2 separate regions of the Homo sapiens genome follow, and region 2 is linked to region 1. The links come from fine-mapping of genetic effects on gene expression. A gene starts in region 1. The other region holds a variant in brackets. All regions are shown on one strand. Distances are from middle to middle. Region 1 holds the start of YBX3 (Y-box binding protein 3). Region 2 overlaps YBX3 (Y-box binding protein 3).

The links. PIP is the estimated chance that this variant, and not a neighbour inherited with it, causes the effect. A credible set is the group of variants that fine-mapping cannot tell apart.
Region 2: its variant is the best candidate, but not a certain one, in a credible set for the expression of YBX3 in whole blood (TOPMed, PIP 0.55).

Annotation. Positions count from the first base shown.
Region 1 is chr12:10,720,670-10,726,055 of GRCh38, forward strand. It overlaps YBX3 (Y-box binding protein 3), which reads right to left and starts at 2,654. Exons shown (of 10, transcript NM_003651.5): 1 at 2,181-2,654. The coding sequence starts at 2,442. LOC124902876 reads left to right here and starts at 2,383. Exons shown (of 2, transcript XM_047429946.1): 1 at 2,383-2,991; 2 at 4,368-4,649. The coding sequence starts at 2,441. The coding sequence ends at 4,437. RefSeq lists silencers at 1,900-2,299, 2,430-2,529, 2,550-2,769.
Region 2 is chr12:10,699,236-10,704,621 of GRCh38, forward strand. It overlaps YBX3 (Y-box binding protein 3), which reads right to left. Exons shown (of 10, transcript NM_003651.5): 7 at 4,816-4,913; 8 at 2,725-2,899; 9 at 2,019-2,118; 10 at 1-419. The coding sequence ends at 2,053. Among named protein-coding and RNA genes, the nearest start is that of YBX3, 21 kb to the right of the region's middle. The variant G/A (reference allele first, on the strand shown) is at 2,929.

The DNA of each region.
Region 1 (5,386 bases):
CTGGGAAAATATAAAGACTGGAACTGTTTTTAATATCTAGCATTGTTGAAGGAATAATCTTGATTAAAATGACAATACTAATAATAAAGGAAAAAGATGATAAATAATTCTCAGGTCTAACCTCAATCCAAGCTGAAGGTTATTTTTACTCTCCAATGTAGTTTAAAAAAGTTTCGTAATTCCGCAAATACTTCTCCAAGGACTTCTTATGATCAAATTCATTCCCACGTCTTGCTTTAAACCATAAACCCACTTCATATACACTAAGGGGAAGGGTTGGGGAGGAAGACCATAGATTTCCATAACATTTATCAGAAGGAAAATTTTTTTGCACTCATGAAAACTATTTTTCCTGGCCTATGTGCTTATAAACTCAAGTGAAGGCCCATTTGCAAATACTAGAACATATCCATTTTAGTCAGCATTGTGCCTAGTACATCTTAGGCATCTATGTGTTTGCTTGGCAAAGGAAAGGGGATGGCAGGACACACTAGACAGAGACAAACAGTGTTGAGGTGTCACGTAGAAAGGGCTGTCCTTCATTTTTAGAGAGACGCAGTAAGAGTGGAAAGATAAAAGGCATCAGACTCATCACCAGGGATCTGCAGAGGCAGTTGCTTGAGGAAATTAACCTTCATTTATCTGTTTCCTTCATCTTTAAAGATAGTATCTGCTTTCCCAATCTCAGAACAGTACAGGATTAAGTGAAAAACCGCAAAAGCTTTCTACAAAATAAGGTATCATTAACAATGTTATCCTAACACTGCTTTGGAGAACACAAGGTTTTCTCTCTCAGACATCTGGCAGAAAGTGTTCCAAGAAATATTTGCTAGAAACAACATCACAATGTACTACTGACTAGATTTAAGCAACTTTTAGTCCAGCAAAATCAGGCCTATTTTGTTTCTTAACCTACACAGGTTACAATTAGCATGTTGTTTGGTAGGGACTTAGTAAAAGCCCTAGAAAAAAAAAACAAGAAAATAGTCCTCTCAAGGTGGGGAATATTGAATACACTTCTCTCACATTGCTCCCTCAACTTTCTTCCCAAAGGGGAAGTAGGGCTCAGAGAGATGAGACAAACATGCCCCACCCCAAATAGTGAAGAGGTCTCCGAAGCATCCTACACCATCTGTTAACGTTCCTGTTTATAAGAGCGAACGATATGGACACACACCCTTTAGGGAGGTTATTCACCACCCACCTGCTTTGCAAGCGTTTAAGAACTCACACAGGGGCGTTACTTACGAAAAGAACGCTTGTTATGTGACTAAACCAACAACCATCACAGAAACCCTTTCCATCCACTGCCCCCCCAAATCTCAACATTTCATCTTCCTGTTTCCCTTCCTACGTTACAAGTGCCAAGGTAACAATGTTTTGAACTAACGTCATACCCCCACTTCCGACAAAGTTTTTTCAGCTGCTACACCACGTGCGTTCCCACAGTCCGGGAAGAGGGAAGCGTGTAGCCATTGGTGGACACTGAATGGCTGTTTGCAGCCGTGGGCACAGAGAGGGGGAGGAAGACGTGGGACTAAGACCCAAGTTTCCCGGAGACGATTGCAACATCTCTTTGCTGGCATGTGGCCAACAGGAGCATGGCGTCTTTCCCATGCCCATGTGGGAAGGGCGTCAGGGACAGACACCTGACCCTTCCTGGCAAGAAGCTTTTCTATCTTTCCCTCCCCGTCTCCTTCTAGCGCCCTCCTCTTCCCCAAAGGAAATGCTCTCCTTTCCCAGATCCCAAGCAAGGACCCCAAAGCGCCAGGCCCACGTGTCGGTCCTTCCCCTACATCCATCCCTACCCAAGGTCCCCTCTCCCAGACTGCCTCTCCTTTCTTCTCCAAACGCAGGCATTTTCCACCACGCGAATCCGCAACAGTGCCCGTCTGGGAGACAGAAGTTAAGACCTAAACTTTCTGGCCCGGAACCAGAAGGGAGATGCACACGGCCGCCAGGAGCGCAGGGCGCAGCGCGCTCACCTGGGAGCGCCGGCAAGGGAGGCGGCCAGCGCTGGGGACCCGGAGACCCCTGGGGACCCGGAGATCCCTGGGGACCCTGTGCTGTCAGCGTCTCCAGCCCGGGTGGGAGATGTAGCGCGAGCTGCCCACACGTGCTCCGCGGCCGGCTGGGCCCGCCCCACTACGGCAGCCCCTGCCCTCCCTGGCCTGACTCACCGAGAACTTTTTTCTCCGCGTCTTCGCTGCCGGCGGCGGTGGCTAAAGAGGCGGCGGCCGCGGTGCCCGTGGCTGCGGGGGCCGCGTCCCCACCGGGGTTTCCTGCGACGTGGGCGGCGGGCGCCGGGGCCGCGGCCTGGGGCGCACCGCTGCCCACCGGGCTCTTGGGCGCGGGGTCCTGGGGAGCCGCGGCGGCCGCCTCCGTCGGAGCCTGCGGGAGGGTGGTGGTGGTGGTGGTGGTGGCCTCGCCCGCCTCACTCATGCCTCCTCCTCCTCTGCTCTCGCTCAGGCGCCTCGGTGGCGGTTGGTCGGCGGTTAGCGCGGCTGGTGGTCGCGGCGGCCGGGGCTCGCTCTCGGGGAGGCCGGGGCGGATCTCGCGGCGCAGGCGGCGGCGGCCGAGGTGGGGTCGCGCGGCGGAGGCGGCTCGAGCTTCGTGCTGCGCGCTCTCTCTTGGGCTCCTCGCTCGATCTTACTGCCCCAAAAATGGCCCCGCACAAGTTTTTCTAGGCGGCGCACCGGCCCGGGAGGGAAGGGCGGGCGAGGGGAGAGGGTGGGGAAACTTGGCTCGGGAGTCGGGCCCTGGACTCTCATTAGCATTTAAAGGCGCCCGGTGCGCTTTCTATGGCTCCAATCCGCCGGGACGCGAGCGCGCGGGTCGCGTTGCAGAACCAAGGAAAGCCAGGGTGAACGGGGCGCCCGGGTTGTCTTCTGGAGCGTTCCGAGGAGCCCGCGCTGCTGACCCTTTGTTGGAGCGGGGTGCATTGGCTCTCCTCCCTCAACCCGTCTTGACACCCGCAGCTGACAAGGAGAGGTAAAATAGGGCACCCAAACTACTCTGCGCTTTACCCTCTCAAACACTTGTTTTTAAATCCTTTGCATCTAGTCAGTCATTCAACATGTATCAAGCACCAGCAGCTATTCGTAGCACAGCTGTTAAGACCTGGAATAATAAAACCTTAAGACTATTTGGCAACTTACTCCTGAAAGGTAATATACGGATAATTTCATCTGTAACACGCAGATGAGGAAATTGACCTCACAGATTTAATGTAAATTCAGAGTTTACACCAATTTAACCGCAACAAATAAGGAGCTGTCAATATATATTTAATAAGGAACACACACAAAAAAAGCTGAATAAATCCACTTCCTACCTTCTGCTCCAGTTGCCTCTGCCAGCTGGTGAAAGCTTAAGGAACTGAGCCCTCTTAGCCTCGAGGATGAGAGGTATAGAGAAACAGATCACCCAATAAACATTATTCCCAAGTTGAAGAGCCCACATGCCCTTTGAGAATGGGCTGGATGGTAGTAAACACAGGGCCAGAGGGTCTGGGATCTGTACCCAAAGACTGTCTGGAATACAGGACTATTTGGCCCCTAGGGTTCAGACAGACTAGGTATAAATTCTGGCTTTGTTTTTTATTAACCAGGTTAACTTGGGACAGAGATTCAATGTCCCAGAGTCGGTTTCCTGCTTTATGAGAGGTTCTCAAAGGTGACATGAAAAGTAGATGAGATTATCATGTGTCACTCCAGTGTCCGGTCCACCTAAAGCTCCTTTGTTTTGTTTGTTTTTTAAGTTATTGCCTGTTCCCTCAAACAATTTACCAAATTTTTTTCCAGGAATATGTCTGTAATGTCGATGTCTACCTTAACATCAGTAGGGTAACTATCAAGTGTAATTCATCTTTGTATCTCCACTGGTTAGTACAGTACGTAGCACAGAGTTTGGACATAGTGAATGTTTACAAAATGAAAACAGACCAAATTCTTCCAAACTCAATTACTTATCTGCACATTTGCTATCAATTATTATGAAACTTTCCTGAATTCTTACTTTCTTATTTCATCCACAAAAAACACAAAGAAAATAAGTTATTTGAAAAAATAGCAAATTATGTAATTTTGAGCTTTTCTATGTAATTCATCAATATTTAAAAAATTACAAACTCTTAAATGTTAGATTCATATTTTAGTTTGACTTCAGTATGGAGCATACAGTGATGTTATATAAATGTAGATGCTTTTAAAATGCTGGTCTAATTCTAAGAATGATTAAATTATTTCTTCATGTGAAAGATTATGGTCTTAATTACAATTAAATTATAAACATGATTTATTCTGGTGAGGACTGACCATTGACTTTCTTATTCAGCAAAATGATTATCATTGCTATTTACCTTTCAGAATTACATTACAAGAAAAAAAAGTAAGGAGATTGAACTCTTCAAACCGATCCAACAGTAAAGCCTTTTAAAAAAATTCATCCTTGGAAGTAATTCATAACTAACAGGTGTGATCTCCAACCTCTGGAAGACCCTAAAATAATTACAGATGCACCCTGGGATTTCCTAGAATTTGTGCTGGACTGGCTTCCAAAACTACTCATCATTGTCATCCAAACAAAGCAGTGAGCAGCTGGAAGTTGTTGGTATTGTACTAAATAAATCTAAAGAAAATTAGAACAAATATGATCTATGTTTTAATAATCATAAGTAGGAAGCAACTTGGATACAGATACACATAAATTTATCCATTCCTTCATTCACTAATTCATACACTCATATTTGCTAAGCAAATGCTATGTCCCGGACAAAGTACACCATTGTGAGTATCCAATGTTGACCAAAATGGAGCCGGTTGTAAGGTCTTTTGATATGATGTTAAAATTATTTTTCACTATCAACATTTCTATTGTAAGACAATATCATCATTTACTAAGTTTAAGAGTAAGTCAACAAAGAATTATAATCTAATTGCTGACAGCAGTCATTTTTAAGCAATTATTGGTTTGATCATAAAAACAAATGCCACTCTGTTCCTAGTATGGAGGAAGTTAAAGCTCTCACAACTGTTGGAAGGGCTGAAGGAGGGAAACTCAGAGAAGCTCCACTGAAGATCTCAGCCTCCAGTCCCCAAGACAGTGGTTCTCAGGAGTTCTCCTGAAGCCACTGGAGCCACAAGATCTTTCGGAAGTTCTCAGCAATTCAGGGCTGGATTCAGGTTTTGTGATGCTTAAAACTAATACAATTTAGAGAGCCCTTTTTGAGATAAAATAAAGTTATGAATACTAAAATGCTAGGACTGCTCCCAGAGTCTTCGAAAGGGTCCGTGCAAGACAGGAGCCCTGAAATTTAAACTTCATTAGCTTTACTCCTGCACCTGCTATCTCAGTCAGCAACACCGATGCAGTAAGTCCTCAAGAA
Region 2 (5,386 bases), 21 kb before region 1:
CACTTGGAGGTTTAGCACCAGCATCCAAAATGAACAAAAACGGAAAAAAAAGCATTTACTATATATTTCAGATTTCTTTGGTTGGGGTTCTCCCCATGTGGTATTAATATTTCTTGTTTCAATATATATATTACCAAAACAGTAAAAACCAGGAAAAAAAATAGAAACCTAGCGGTTGCTGAAACTGGAGAGGCTACTCTCTTGTCTTCCGTGCAGGAATTCCCAGGTTCTCAGCTTGCTGGAAAAATTTGTTGACATTTTCTTTTTGTAGTTGTTTCTTAAAGAATAACAGTAAACATTCCAATGTCCAAATCTTGGTTAGTCTTCCACTTTATTGCTTGGATGTTTCTTTGGTGTTGGTTAAGGTTGTGGCCTGCTTTTTGCTTTATTTCTGAATGGTCATTAATTCTTTAGGTCACCTGGGAAAAATTAAAATCAAACTTATAAAGAGTGACAAAGTAACCATGAGTTAAAGAATAAAAAGGCAGAAATTATATGCTTTTCATATAATTAGAAAAAGAGTACTTCAAATGCTCTAAATACAATCACATCTTGTATAGATCTGTAAGCTATATGTTAATTAAATGGAAACTCTCACTTTTTAATAAAGTATTTTTATAAACCAGAAAAGTCAGTACATAAGAGCAAAAATTTTATAAAATTGTATAAAAGAAAATTACCATTACTAATGAACAATACTCAAAATCATTTTAGTGGCTGCACCCTATCTCCTAATATGAATATATCACAATTAGCTATTTACCAAATGTCAGACAGACTGTAAATTGTAAAAATATTTTTTCCCAATATTTAAAATTATTTCCTTAGAAACAATACCTAGAAATAATGTTACGCCATAAAAGGGTATGGCCATTTTTATATTATTAATATGTTACTCTGAATCAGCTAATTCCAAGTTTGAATAGGGAACTTATTTCTGTGACAAACTGTCCATGCTACCCAAGATAAAACAGAATATTGTCCTCAAAGTGAATGCTTACCTAATTAATGGCTGATTAAAATCCCACATCACTGGATATAAAAGCAGATGGCCTTAAGACACAAGAACTTATAATAATCCCAAAACTTCATTGATGAAATTTTAACAATTTTTGAAAAATAGCATTGACACTGAGTTTACAACCTCTCTCTTAACTAAAAGCTAATGGAAAGGGTGATAACCAAGAAGTATAAGAACTAAAGTCTCAGTTAAAAGGGTTATAGGTTAAAAAAAAACAAACCCAGAATTTATAATTGAGTTGATCTTTCTGGCTATAATTCTATGTAAATAAAATGTCCAAGACCTTTAAAAGACAGAAAAAAGTAGAAAATGACAAGAAAATAACAAGCTATCCTTTTACGAGAGGTTATTCTTTACCATACCCTATTGTAAACACTCCCTGTTATTTCACTTAATAATCCTTGCAACGACCCTAGTAAATATAATTAGTATCCTAATTTTTACCAGTAGCAGATAGTACTGAGACAGAGGATAAACTGCTCAAGATCACCCAGCAAATGAGAGGTACAGTAGAGCCTGCAATGGGTAGATAAACCTTGGCTCTTATACACTATGCTGCACCGCCTCAAAATAAATAAAGTTGATTATCAAAGAAAAAGGGAAGGAAAAAAAATCCTTTAGTTTATTCTACTGTTTCTGATTACTAAACAGGTTCTGAAACTGTTTCTGATTACTAAAACCAGGCCTTTGTTAGGGACTTTTAGCATCAGTTTTCCTAAGTGGTACTAGTAGTTAAAAAACTGCCTGTCTAGAAAAAAGAAGTTGAGTATCATCAACTCTGTCTGAATGCTTATACCCTCACCAAAGCTTATCAAAATGAGGTCAATCCCAGAAATATTTAACCACCAAATCACTTTTTCCACAGAGTCCCAATAGAGACAAGGGGTTGGCACAGATGAACTGCAGAACTAGTTTAGACTAATTTGTACTCTTGTTGAGAAACCAGTGATACTAAAAAGAAAATACCAACTCAAGACTGGGCTGCCCCAGCTCTTACCTGCCGATGGTGAAGGTGCCTGAGGAGCCTGGTGTTACTCAGCACTGCTCTGCTGGGTGGGTGGAGCAGGGTTCTCAGTTGGTGCTTCACCTGCCTTGGCCTAAAATGCAAAACAAAGCCATAAATCAGATAAAGTCAGATGACAGTGGAAAGTTCAAGACTGAAAGTTCTTAAAAGTTTGAATTTTCCTGTGAAGGAAAATTAGCATGCAAAAATTTAACTACTCTTAAGTATGAGTCACAAATTAGTACCATATTCAGTCCCTGGCATCTCTACCAAAACAAAACGAAACCAAAACCTCACAAAAACAAAAAACAAAACAAAACAAAATTAGTACCATATAAGAACAGCTTACAAAACGGCAACTAAATACCACTACTCTCCATAAAGTCTGATATACAACTGCTTTCAACTCATGCTTAGAGGCAGCTTCCTCTTGATAAATGCCTCTCTTCTTTGAAGAACCCCAAATGTTTTAGCTCTGAATCCCCATTAATATGGGTCATTCTTTCAGAGAATGTTAACTGGATTCAAATATGTGGTCTGTGTTATGTACAAGGCATACCCTATATATATGGATCTTGAGCAAAATGTTTTTATATTTGTTAAGTGTCAGGTTTCATGTGATAAAACCACTTTTAGAATGCTAAAGTCTGACATGATTAAAGACTATCTGGCAACATCCGCCCTGACTGGTTGGATTTACCTCTTTGCCATCTTGTGAAGGAGCGTTAGGAGGACGCGGGCGACGCCGGTAATTGTAGGGACGCCGGTATCCACGGCGAACAGACGGCTGGTTTGGACCACTGGTGGCTTGCTGATTTTCTTTATCTTCAGCCTCTCCAACTGCTGGGGCAGGTCGTGGGCGAGGAGGTCCCCTGCTGTAGGGAACACAGAAGAAAATAGAACA[G/A]GTGCCAACAGGACAGGGCTTCTCCAGAAAATAAGGTTTTATTTATTTTTAAAAATTAAAAAGTCAAGTGATCAGGGCCAGGCATGATGGCTCACCCCTGTAATCCCAGCACTTCAGGAGGCTGAGGCAGGCGGATCACTTGAGGTCAGGAGTTTGAGACCAGCCTGGCCAACATGGTGAAACTCCATCTCTACTAAAAATACAAAAATTAGCCGGGCGTGGTGGCACATGCCTGTAATCCCAGCTACCTGGGAGGCTGAGGCATAAGAATTGCTTGAATCCATGAGGCAGAGGTTGCAGCAACCCGAGATTGGCACACTCCAGCCTGGGTGACAGAGGGAGACTCCATCTCAAAATTAAAAAAAAAAAAAAGTCAAGTGATGAGTACTTATTGCTAGAATTATTCGCAGGTCAATGCAACAAATGGAATAGAGGTTTCACGAAAAAAAAATCTTAATTTTCCATCATTTTCCCCTTTCATTTGAATACATATTTGTAAGGAACATACATATACTGAACACATACTCTGTTCCTATCAGGCCCTTTGATAAGCACTAAGAATAGGAAAATTAAAAAAGAAAAGAAGAGTAGTCTGGTATCTGCCTTCCATGAACAGAATTTAGCAGAGACTAAGGGAATTAAACATGAGAAGAAACATTATTATGTGCCAGAGCCTGTGCTAGTCGGTTTTAAAATTAAATATTTAATTTGAATGGTAATTCTGTGGATGAGATTTATAACAAGAAAACCAAGAGGTTTACATGATAAAGTATACGGCTGAGCTATATAAAAGTGCTGCTTTTATAGGTTAAAAAAGGTCAAATATGACTTTCCAAGATCACATATCCAGGGACTGACAAAGCTGAGCCTCACACGCTACTGAATCCTTTTTGTTCCAGTAAGACATTTCTATGCCGTCTCTTTTATTTTCAAAGTCCCTAGTACTTAATCATTAGTGATTATGCCTAAAGCTGGAGGGAACCTTGTGAAGAAAAAGGATACGATCCTTTTACAATTATATTGGTGGAATCCTTTCCCAATATAATATACTTTTTATCCTTCAATAAAGCCATACTGACAAATTTCAAGGTAGCATAAACATCATTCAGGAAGAAGTTGTAGCTTTTCCACTTACCACAAAGGGTAAGATAAAAGAATGGGCAGGCTTATATTATAAAATGCTTCAAAGGGATCTTATGGAAGGAGTCTAGCCTAATTCAGTCTTCCAAAGGAATAAAGCACAAATAGAATAACCCAGCGTTCACTAATATTAACCTCAATGGTGGTAATAATATCTAATACATAGTGAGGCCTTTACTTTATCAGGTACCACACTAATTATCTTAGCTGCATTAGTACCTTTAATCCCCAACTATAGAATATCTCTTTGTTTTCAGACAGGGTCTCACTCTGTTGCGCAGGCTGGAATGCAGTCCAAGAACATACATCTAATGAACTGTAGAGTAGGAAGATAAATTCAGGCGATTTGATCATACCCTGATTTAACCCCTCTACTGGACTGCCTCAGTGATTAACAGTCACTATCCCAAATATCCTCTGACACTCAATTCTTCCTCCATCTGCAGCATTACCACAGAATTGCCCACCAATAATTTATCTGATTTATTTTGATAAAAATTAAGTATTAATTTACATCTTATTATAATTCCAGAATACAAAATGACGCTTTGGCGCAGAGATAACTAAAAATTCTAGTATTAAGTAGGTGGGAAATGTCACACCACCACCTGAAAACTCTGGCATGTAGTCAAAGCATTCACATCTTCTAGATATATAATAAATCCACAAAACGGAACCACACAGTCCTCATTCTACCATTGTGCACACAAGTCCTTTAACTGGCCATTAGTGGAAAATGCGACATACCTACGGTACCTTGGGCGGTAAGTTGGATTTCGATGAACCGGTCCCTGAAGTTGTGCTCCCTCTGGGACTCCATCCTTCATCTCTCCAATCTCACCAGCCTGGAGAGGCAATGAGAGCTGACAGTGAGTGTCACAGCACAGGGGATAAGATACAGTGCATACAGCTATGTTCAGAATTTTTTTTAGAAGTAAAAAACAAAATGCTTCATTACAAAATTAGGCACTCTCAGTTGCAACACAAACTATTTATGAGTAAATCTTCGTGAACGACTGAAAAGGAAGACAAACCTAGTCTGACTAGAATACTCATTTGCTTAGTCCCAGAGCACCTAACTTTATTTTCGCCTATCAATTTAACATTTTGAAATCGGATACATTTCATTCATCTCTTTAAATAAAATACTCTTTTATTTTTCTTTACAACAAACTTACTTTAAGCCAGTGGAATAAAATTAACTTATTGTACAACTTCCAGGGGAAAGAAAGAACAACTTAAAAAAACAAAAAAACCCACCAACAATGTCTGCAATTCTTGACCATACAGCCATAACTCAACTTTCTTTTCTTTTCTC